Regions from separate parts of the Homo sapiens genome. Here region 2 is reported to be linked to region 1. The links are microRNA targets in miRTarBase. Many come from high-throughput screens and were not tested one by one. Region 1 holds a microRNA gene; the other region holds the end of a gene's coding sequence.
Evidence for each region. Region 1 holds the annotated microRNA hsa-miR-187-3p (UCGUGUCUUGUGUUGCAGCCGG, at 1,294-1,315, opposite strand). A microRNA usually pairs through its seed, bases 2 to 8, with sites in the 3' UTR of a target mRNA and lowers its output. Matches are read on the target gene's strand: a 7mer-m8 pairs with bases 2 to 8, a 7mer-A1 pairs with bases 2 to 7 and ends in A, and an 8mer does both.

Region 2: miRTarBase lists INPP5B as a target of hsa-miR-187-3p. Seed matches in the 3' UTR shown: 7mer-m8 at 849-855 and 7mer-m8 at 1,423-1,429.

What each region holds. Positions count from the first base shown.
Region 1 is chr18:35,903,542-35,907,932 of GRCh38, forward strand. MIR187 (microRNA 187) reads right to left here and starts at 1,385; the gene lies at 1,277-1,385.
Region 2 is chr1:37,858,590-37,862,980 of GRCh38, reverse strand. It overlaps INPP5B (inositol polyphosphate-5-phosphatase B), which reads left to right. Exons shown (of 24, transcript NM_005540.3): 24 at 551-2,284. The coding sequence ends at 666. It overlaps MTF1 (metal regulatory transcription factor 1), which reads left to right and starts at 3,389. Exons shown (of 11, transcript NM_005955.3): 1 at 3,389-3,450. RefSeq lists a silencer at 3,123-3,452.

The sequences.
Region 1 (4,391 bases):
GTGCAGCACACCAACATGGCGCATGTATACATATGTAACAAACCTGCACATTGTGCACATGTACCCTGAACCTTAAAGTATAATAAGAAAAAAAAAGACAGTTTCCAGGTTTCCCACACAGAAGACAGCATGTCTGCCTTAACCTGATCTGTTCTGTAGTGGATCCTGCTGGGTTGTTCAGGCCATGATGGTGACACATGACCCAGAGCCTTCCCTGCATCTCGATCCGCTCAACTTCCCGGCTTTCCCCTCAGTTTTCACTTAAGTGCAGCCTAAAATGACCATAAAATGTCATTTTATGCTAGTTCCCTCCAGATCATTCAAGAGAAGGAAAAACACTGCACCAATTACATTTTAAAACTAGCTCATTTCTTGTAAAAGAGGAGGCACTGTGAACACCATGAGGCTGGTGAAAAGCAAGGGAATAAATGGATCCTTTCTATCTAGGACACAGGGTTGGTGTGGAAAGTAACATGCAGGTAGTCCTGGGGGCCAGGGGCTCATCTGAATCTGATTGAAGGGTGCTGCCCCAAGAGCAGGCTCTTTGGGGAAATTCGAGCCATAGTCCTCAGCTGTGAAGGCAGAGTCACTCAGCGGACCCTGCATCCAAGCTCCCACCCCAGTGCTGTGACAGCCTGCACAGGTGAAGGAACCTTGCTTTTCACACCTCTCACCTCCAGTTTTAGGGTCCTCTTCTGGGGCTTCTTCCCTATTGGGAGTTCATGATCTGATTTCATTTCCTTCTGGAGTCTCTGTCATGTTGGCAGTAATGTCTTCAATGAAACCAGCTAATGCCTACAGTGGTTTAATCTCCCACCTTGCAGAAAATATTCACATTTTAATAGACAACTCCTAAAAATGCAATGCTTTTCCGATCTGGAGGCGGTCCAGTGGTGGGCTTCTCATCAATGGGAGAGATGTTTGGGGAGAAACTGCCTTCCTTGCTACCCTCCTACCCCCATTGTGGAGTCTCAGTCACCTGGTCTGGGGACCGGAGGTGAGGAGCAGAAGGCATCCTCAAAGCCCAGACCCAAAGTAGGCTGTGTCACCCTGCAGCCAGCACCAGCTACCTGCACTGGGCCAGAGGTGAGCCAAGCTGTGTACGGAGAGACGAAACTAGGACAAAAAAGGGGGCTGAATGGGTGACACCTGGGGTGGTCCGGGTCGGCCTCTCTCCCAACACCCCACCCACCTGCCCACCAGAGCCTGGACTTTCCCATGGTCTCTGTGCAGTCCCCTGTGTCGAGTCCCTCAGGACAAGCGGAGCAGGCTCTGCTGCGGACCTGCGTCCCTCCGGCTGCAACACAAGACACGAGGGGTCAGAGCAGCGCCCGGGTCCTGTGTTGTAGCCCGAGGTCTCACACTGTGTCATGGTGAGCCCGACCTGCAGCACCTGCCTGGCCTCCTCTTCCAGGTGGGCTGCCCAGCTTCTGCTTGGGGAATCCGACTTGCTGTGCATCCCGATGAGGAAGCTGTAAAAGAACAGAGGTCAGCATCAGTAGAGGGTCCTGGGACTGGGGCTCAGCAGAGGCCTTGACCTGAGGAGTCTTGGCTGTGATGGGCGAGGAGTCCTGCCCGGGGCAGCATAGATGACCTGTGCTCCAGGTGAGCAGCGAGCCTGATGGAAATGCTCAGAGAGGTGAGGGGCTTTGCACGCAAATACTTCACTGTCCACATACCTTTTCCTTTAAACAATGAATTATGGCTGTTTACAAGCCACTAATTACAGTTTATCATAACAATACTTCCTAGGAAATGGGTTCCTACTCTAATACTATGATGAGAATTTTGTAAACGCCAAGCTAGTACAATGAATTGCCCTGAGTTATAATAAATATCTGCACTTTGGGAGTAAGGCAGTAAACACAACATTACTGCTATCCATTTCCTATAGGCCTCTGAAGGATTTATTACTTATTTATGGTTTCTTTTTATTCAAAAACTCCTACATATCATTTTTTTGCAGATTATTTTGGATGAGTCATTTCTGGTTTTTTTTACAAAATAAAACGCGGTAGGCCCAGAACCCAAAAAGCGTCCCAACTTCAGTCCCTCCAAAGGTGACTTGTTGAGATTCCTCCCCGAGGCGCGCAATCCTTGGCTGAGCTCCACAGAATTCCTGGGCTGTGGGAATGAGGAGTAAGCGGCGGTGTTGCTCTCCTTATTTCTAGCTTCAGTAAAGTGGACCCATCAGTTTTGTTCAACGAATCTTTTGGGAAGGCTGTAGACTTTGAGCCCAGATGGGACATTAAACAGAAGTGTAGAAATTAGGTGTCACATCGTTTTCTACCAACAAAAGAAGATAAAAGTAGAAGGAAGAGGGATAACAATATCATGCCCACATTTTGTACAGGAACTTAAAATTGAACAATTTAGAGGGAGGGAAATCCCTTCTCTTCCTAAATTGTCTAAAAGACTGAGGGGCTCTTCCCAGCTGACCAGGGTACTCCCCACTATATCTGAGTCTGTGCAGACCTATACAGGCACATGTTCTCCAAATAAGTTATTTTCCCCTCCAAACTCCTTTCTCAGGCTGGGCACTCATGATCTAAGACTGCATCAGGCCCTGAGAAGCAACAGAGGACTCATACACTTTTTTTGTGTGTGGTTTTTTTTATTATACTTTAAGTTTTAGGGTACATGTGCACAATGTGCAGGTTTGTTACATATGTATACATGCGCCATGTTGGTGTGCTGCACCCATTAACTCGTCATTTACATTAGGTATATCTCCTAAAGCTATCCCTCCCCTCCTCCCCCCATCCCACAACAGGCCCCAGTGTGTGATGTTCCCCTTCCTGTGTCCAAGTGTTCTCATTGTTCAATTCCCACCTATGAGTGAGAACATGTGGTGTTTGGTTTTTCGTCCTTGTGATAGTTTGCTGAGAATGATGGTTTCCAGCTTCATCCATGTCCCTACAAAGGAGATGAACTCATCCTTTTTTATGGCTGCATAGTATTCCATGGTGTATACATGCCACATTTTCTTAATCCAGTCTATCATTGTTGGACATTTGGGTTGGTTCCAAGTCTTTGCTATTGTGAATAGTGCTGCAATAAACATACGTGTGCATGTGTCTTTATAGCAGCATGATTTATAATCCTTTGGGTATATACCCAGTAATGGGATGGCTGGGTCAAACGGTATTTCTAGTTCTAGATCCCTGAGGAATCGCCACACTGACTTCCACAATGGTTGAACTAGTTTACAGTCCCACCAACAGTGTCAAAGTGTTCCTATTTCTCCACATCCTCTCCAGCACCTGTTGTTTCCTGACTTTTTAATGATCCCCATTCTAACTGGTGTGAGATGGTATCTCACTGTGGTTTTGATTTGCATTTCTCTGATGGCCAGTGATGATGAGCATTTTTTCATGTGTCTTTTGGCTGCATAAATGTCTAATTTTGAGAAGTGTCTGTTCATGTCCTTTGCCCACTTTGTGATGGGGTTGTTTGTTTTTTTCGTGTAAATTTGTTTGAGTTCTTTGTAGATTCTGGATATTAGCCCTTTGTCAGATGAGTAGATTGCAAAAATTTTCTCCCATTCTGTAGGTTGCCTGTTCACTCTGTTGGTAGTTTCTTTTGCTGTGGACTCGTACACTTTTTAACACATCATTGTCTCAGGGCCCAACACACGGCCTCTGAAAAATGAGAGCCTGTCACAGAGCCACCAGGCAGTGGCCCGCTACTGGCTATTGGGAGAAGCTACCCAGTCCCCAGAACCCAGCCCCCTGCTTCACAAGTCCAGACACCTGATGCTATCCAAGTGCCCAAGTTTGGGGGGCTGGCTCCTGCTGACAAAACTCTGAAGAAACTGAATTCTGCACATGCTTACCTTGCCTTTGAAAGGCAGCAGAAGTGGAGTTGCATTATTGGGTTCTGTCTGAAGAAAGTGAAGGTATCCCAGTACTCATCTGCAACTTCTGACTACAAGCATGTGCAGCAGGCACCCTGGAACTGTATTTTCAGAAACTAAAGAACACAGAGGCAGCTAGGACAGTGGGGAGAAAGCCCGTGCTGATGCAAGGACAGGGAGACCTGAGCTCTGGCTCTGGCCTCGCAGCAGGGAGCAAGTCATGATGAGTAAATCCCAGAAGCTGACCCAGAGTGGCTGCCTGCATGACTTGCTTACTTGCATGATGCTTAGACAGCTGGCTGATTCTCAGATTCCCCAGGAACCAAAATGCAGGCCAGGCGGTAACAGAGCCTCAGCCTGTGGGAGCCCCCTGCACCTGCCTCACAGCACATCCTCCCAGGTGTTGCAGGCCAGGCCTTCTTTCCCAAGTCAGAAGCCAGGCCCATACGGGCAGCTCAGCTGGAACAACGGAGGTGCAGGTCCAAGGCCCAAATAGTGGAGAGTAGGTGGTGTTGCAGGAAGATGAAGACAAAAC
Region 2 (4,391 bases), not on the chromosome of region 1:
AGGACACCAAGCAGGGCTGCCTCCCCCACAACCCCCCAACCTCAGCCACCTCTGACACAGCACCATTCCCCTTGGAAAGCCCACTGGCAGGGACAGGCTAATTTTTGTTATTTTTAGTAGAGATGGGGTTTTACCATGTTGGCCTAGCTGGTCTTGAACTCCTGGCCTCTAGTGATCTGCCCGCTTTGGCTTCCCAAAGTGCTGGGATTATAGGTGTGAGCCACCACACCCAGCTCATAATACCGTATTTTTGATGTGCCTTTCCTATGTTTAGATATATTTGGATGCACAAATACTTAGCACTGTGTTACAATTGCCTGTAGTATTCAGTATAGTAACATGCTGTACAGGAGCTTAGGAGCAATAGACTATACCATCTAGAATTGTGTAAGTACAGGTTTGTGAAAGTTTAAGTACACGCTATGATGTTTGCACAATGATGAAATCACCTAATGACACATTTCTCAGAACATATCCCTGTCGTTAAGTGATGTGTGTCTTTAGTACCTTCTTTTGCTGAATCATTTCTTTTCTGTGTTTTTTCTTGCAGCTAGCATATTTGGCAGCTTATTGCTTCGAAACCCAGCTGGTCACCAAAAGCTTGATATGACAGAGAAGAAGAAGGCTCAAGAATTTATTCACCAGTTCCTCTGCAACCCACTCTGAGCCTCTCTCTCCTCCTATTTTACTTGAGGCTGCCAATTACCAGCCCCACCTGTTTCAGCTCAAGAGATGCCTTAAGATAATTATGTGAGGCCACTTGGTAGCAAGAATGGCAGCTATTTCCTGAGCCTAGTACCCCAATTAAGCCCACCATTGGTTAGCACACTCAGCGCTGTGAGTCGTGAAGACACGGGAGAAAATCCACCATAATAAAACTGACATTCAATTTTCAACTTTAGTTATTTAACACAGATTTTTTTATTTTTTATTTTTTTTTATTTTGAGACGGAGTTTTGCTCTGTCGCGCAGGGTGGAGTGCGGTGGCACGATCTCGGCTCACTGCAACCTCTGCCTCCTGGGTGCAAGCAATTATCCTGCCTCAGCCTCCCGAGTAGCTGGGACTGCAGGCACACACTGCCACGCCCAGCTAATTTTTTGCATTTTAGTAGAGACGGGGTTTCACCGTGTTGCCCAGGCTGTTCTAAAACTCCTGAACTCAGGTAATCTGCCTGCCTCGGCCTCCCCAAGTGCTAGGATTACAGATGTGAGCCACCACGCCCGGCCTTTTTTTTTTTTTTTTCTTTTTTGAGATGGAGTTTCACTCTTGTTGCCCAGGCTGGAGTGCGTTGGCGTGGTCTTGGCTCACTGCAACCTCTGCCTCCTTGGTTCAAGCAATTCTCCTGCCTCAGCCTCTCGAGTAGCTGGGATTATAGGCGTCCGCCACCATGCCTGGCTAATTTTTTTGTGTGTTTTTAGTATAGACACGGTTTCACCATGTTGGCCAGGCTGGTCTCGAATGCCTGGCCTCAGGTGATCCACCTGCCTTGGCCTCCCAAAGTGCTGGGATTACAGGCATGAACCACCACGCCTGGCCTAAAATGTTTTTAAATAACTGTACTTGTACTCACTCACCCTACCTCCAGGGCATAGTCAGTCTGGGCTGAGATCCCCATGATCAGATATTTGATGGAAAGTCCTGAAAGGCCAATGAGTTGGATGGCAAGAATGCAGGCAGAAGCTGCTGGATAAAATAGGCTACAGCCACCTCAGATGCTTTCAGTGCTCTGTCTGAGGATGTGTATATGCATATGCAAACTCGACCCCCGTTCCTGCCCAGATAATGGCTCAATAACTCTGAGGCTGGTTGCTCAGCCTCTGAGGGCAATACAGGCATTTAAAAAATTAAAATGACCAGGCACAGTGGCTCACGCCTGTAATCTCGGCACTTTGGGAGACTGAGGTGGGAGCATCACTTGAGACCAGGAGTTTGGGACCAGGCTGGGCAACACAGGGAGACCCCCTCTCTACAAAAACATTTTTAAAAAATTAGCTGGGTGTGGTGATGCATGCCTGTGGTCCCAGTTACTTGGGAGGCTGACGTGGGTGGCTCACTTGAGCACAGGAGTTTGAGGCTGCAGTGACCTATGACCACATCACTGTACGCCAGCCCGGGTGAGAGAGGGAGACCCCGTCTCTAAAAATAAAATGTAAAATCACTGAAAAAATGAGTGTTCGGTGAAACAAGTGGGATTTTCTGGGCCAGCAAGTCTTCCAAACTGTATATGATGCATCCTGTCTCCATGTGTAATATATTTTAATGATAAATGTATTTTTAACAGTGGCGGTTGTGTATGTTTTTATGTCTTAAGAGATGGCAGTTCGCTGCAGCTGGATTTTGTGGCTCAAGCCTTGGGGCCAAAGAGACATATTCCTGGCAGTCTGGTGGGTACCAGTCACTATTCACATACTTCCAGCAAGAAATGGTTATGGCACTGACCTGAACCCCTTGACCCCTGGTCTGGTCTTTGGAGTTGTCCCACTCTGAATATTCGAGAGAAGCAGCTTATGGTTAAAACAGGCAGTGGCAGCTGGGAGGATCTAACAGCTAGATCCTCCAGGCATTTGGAAAGGACAGGGGCATAACGAAGGCAGAATCGCTTCCTGGGTACGAATGCCCACTACTTCTGGGCACTGTGAAATGGGTTTAAGACGCGGGCCAGCAGGACAATGTGAACGGTGAAAGGAAGGGAGTGGCCGGTAGGTGGCGCTAACTGGCCCGGGCATGAGTCCCGCCGTAGCCGCGTCCTCTTGCAGGGGAAGAAAGTTGGGACCGCCAGCCTGGGCAAGCGCGTGAGAAGGGAGCTGGGGGTCCTAGGCAAGCGCGTGAGAAGGGGAAGAGGCGGCGGCGTCCTCTCCAGCTGGGCTTAGAATACTCTTAGTTCTGCCTTTGGGGTCTTGTCTTCCTTTCTGGGCCTCCTGCCTGTGTTAACTTTGATGGGTGCTGAAGGGAAGGCCGGGGTCCCGGCAGGAGAAACCCGGGAACGTCGCGGCCGTCCAGGCTCCCCTGGCGGGTTGGAGCCAGGGTTCTGACTGCCAACTGTGGTCCTTCCCGCTGCGGCTGTGGCTGCCAGGGCGAGGGCGGTCAGCGCAAACCTGGCTGAGGACATTTCGGATTCTTCCTTGGGGATTCGTTCCCTTCTCCTTGACTCCGGTGCCGCGAGGGCGACACCCTCCGGGCCCCGCGTGGCCACCCCGGGCGCTTCCCCACGCGGATGAACCCACCTCCTGGGCGCCTTCCCCTCGGTGCCCCGCTCGCCAATTGGAGGCTGCAGCTCAGCCCCCTGACAACCTGAGCCAACCAGAGGCGCCAGGGAGGGGCGGATCCTCTGTCCCCACCTTCCTCCGGAAAGAGGAAGCGGAAGTGACGTTAGGGGAAGGTGGGGGCAATCATGGTGCCGCTGGGGAGGGGAGAAGCTGCTGCTGCCGCCGTTGCCGGGAGCCGCGGAGGTAAAAGGCGAAACTAGACTCGGCCTGGGCTTGGGACTTACCGGGAGGCGCGGGACTTAGGCTCCCTCCTGAAGCATTTCCCAATAGAGACCTCAGTTTGGTCACCATAGGGACCCCACCCCTTCTCCGTTTCCATGGGGATGGGTATCCAGCCCCCCTTCCCTGTTTCCATGGAGACCCGGACCCTGCCCCTCTCCTCCTTGCTTGGAGACCCCCAGCTTGTCTTCGGATTTTTCTGTGTAGCCCTGTGCTGGGGGCTATCCCAGACAGGTTCCTTTTCCCAGCCTCCTCTCAAGGGGGCTCTGTTCGCACTCCTCGTTGGCTACCCTCAAACCTCCTGGTCTTGTTTGTTTCGGACAGTTGGTCTCCGCGTTGCCGCCGAGGGTGCCGGGGCAGCCCACTGGGGCCCTCGGTGCTCTTCTCTCTCTGCTCAGATGCAGCGAAATGTACATCTGTGGGGTTGCGTAAGCCAGAGCTAGGGGTCGGGCCGGTACCTCCCGGATCCAATCCTTTGGCCTGTCTCTGGTAACTGTCTAGCCATCCCACTAAGTAAAGGCTCACTTTCTAACCCAGAGCAGAAGAGAAAGATAAAGCGCAAAGCCAGACTGAAAACTAAAAGGGATGTGCTGATTATTTTAAAATTCTCTATTCTGCCTGCCAAACCCACATTTGTAGAGCCTGTGTTTGCAGATGAAGGAAGAATCACTATTCCAGAACATGAAAGCTTCAAATGTGGTATTTTTCTCAAGAGAATGTATCTTCCCAAGATAGTATATCTTCACGAGAGAGTAGGTAGCCATGTCTTTCAGTCATTTAGCTGACATTTCCTGAACTCTTATCATAGTATCAGTGTACTATGCTAGGAGCTGTAGAAACAAAAATAATAAGACTCAATTGATTCAGGGACGAGAGCCCACCACAGAACCATAACTTCTTGTTGA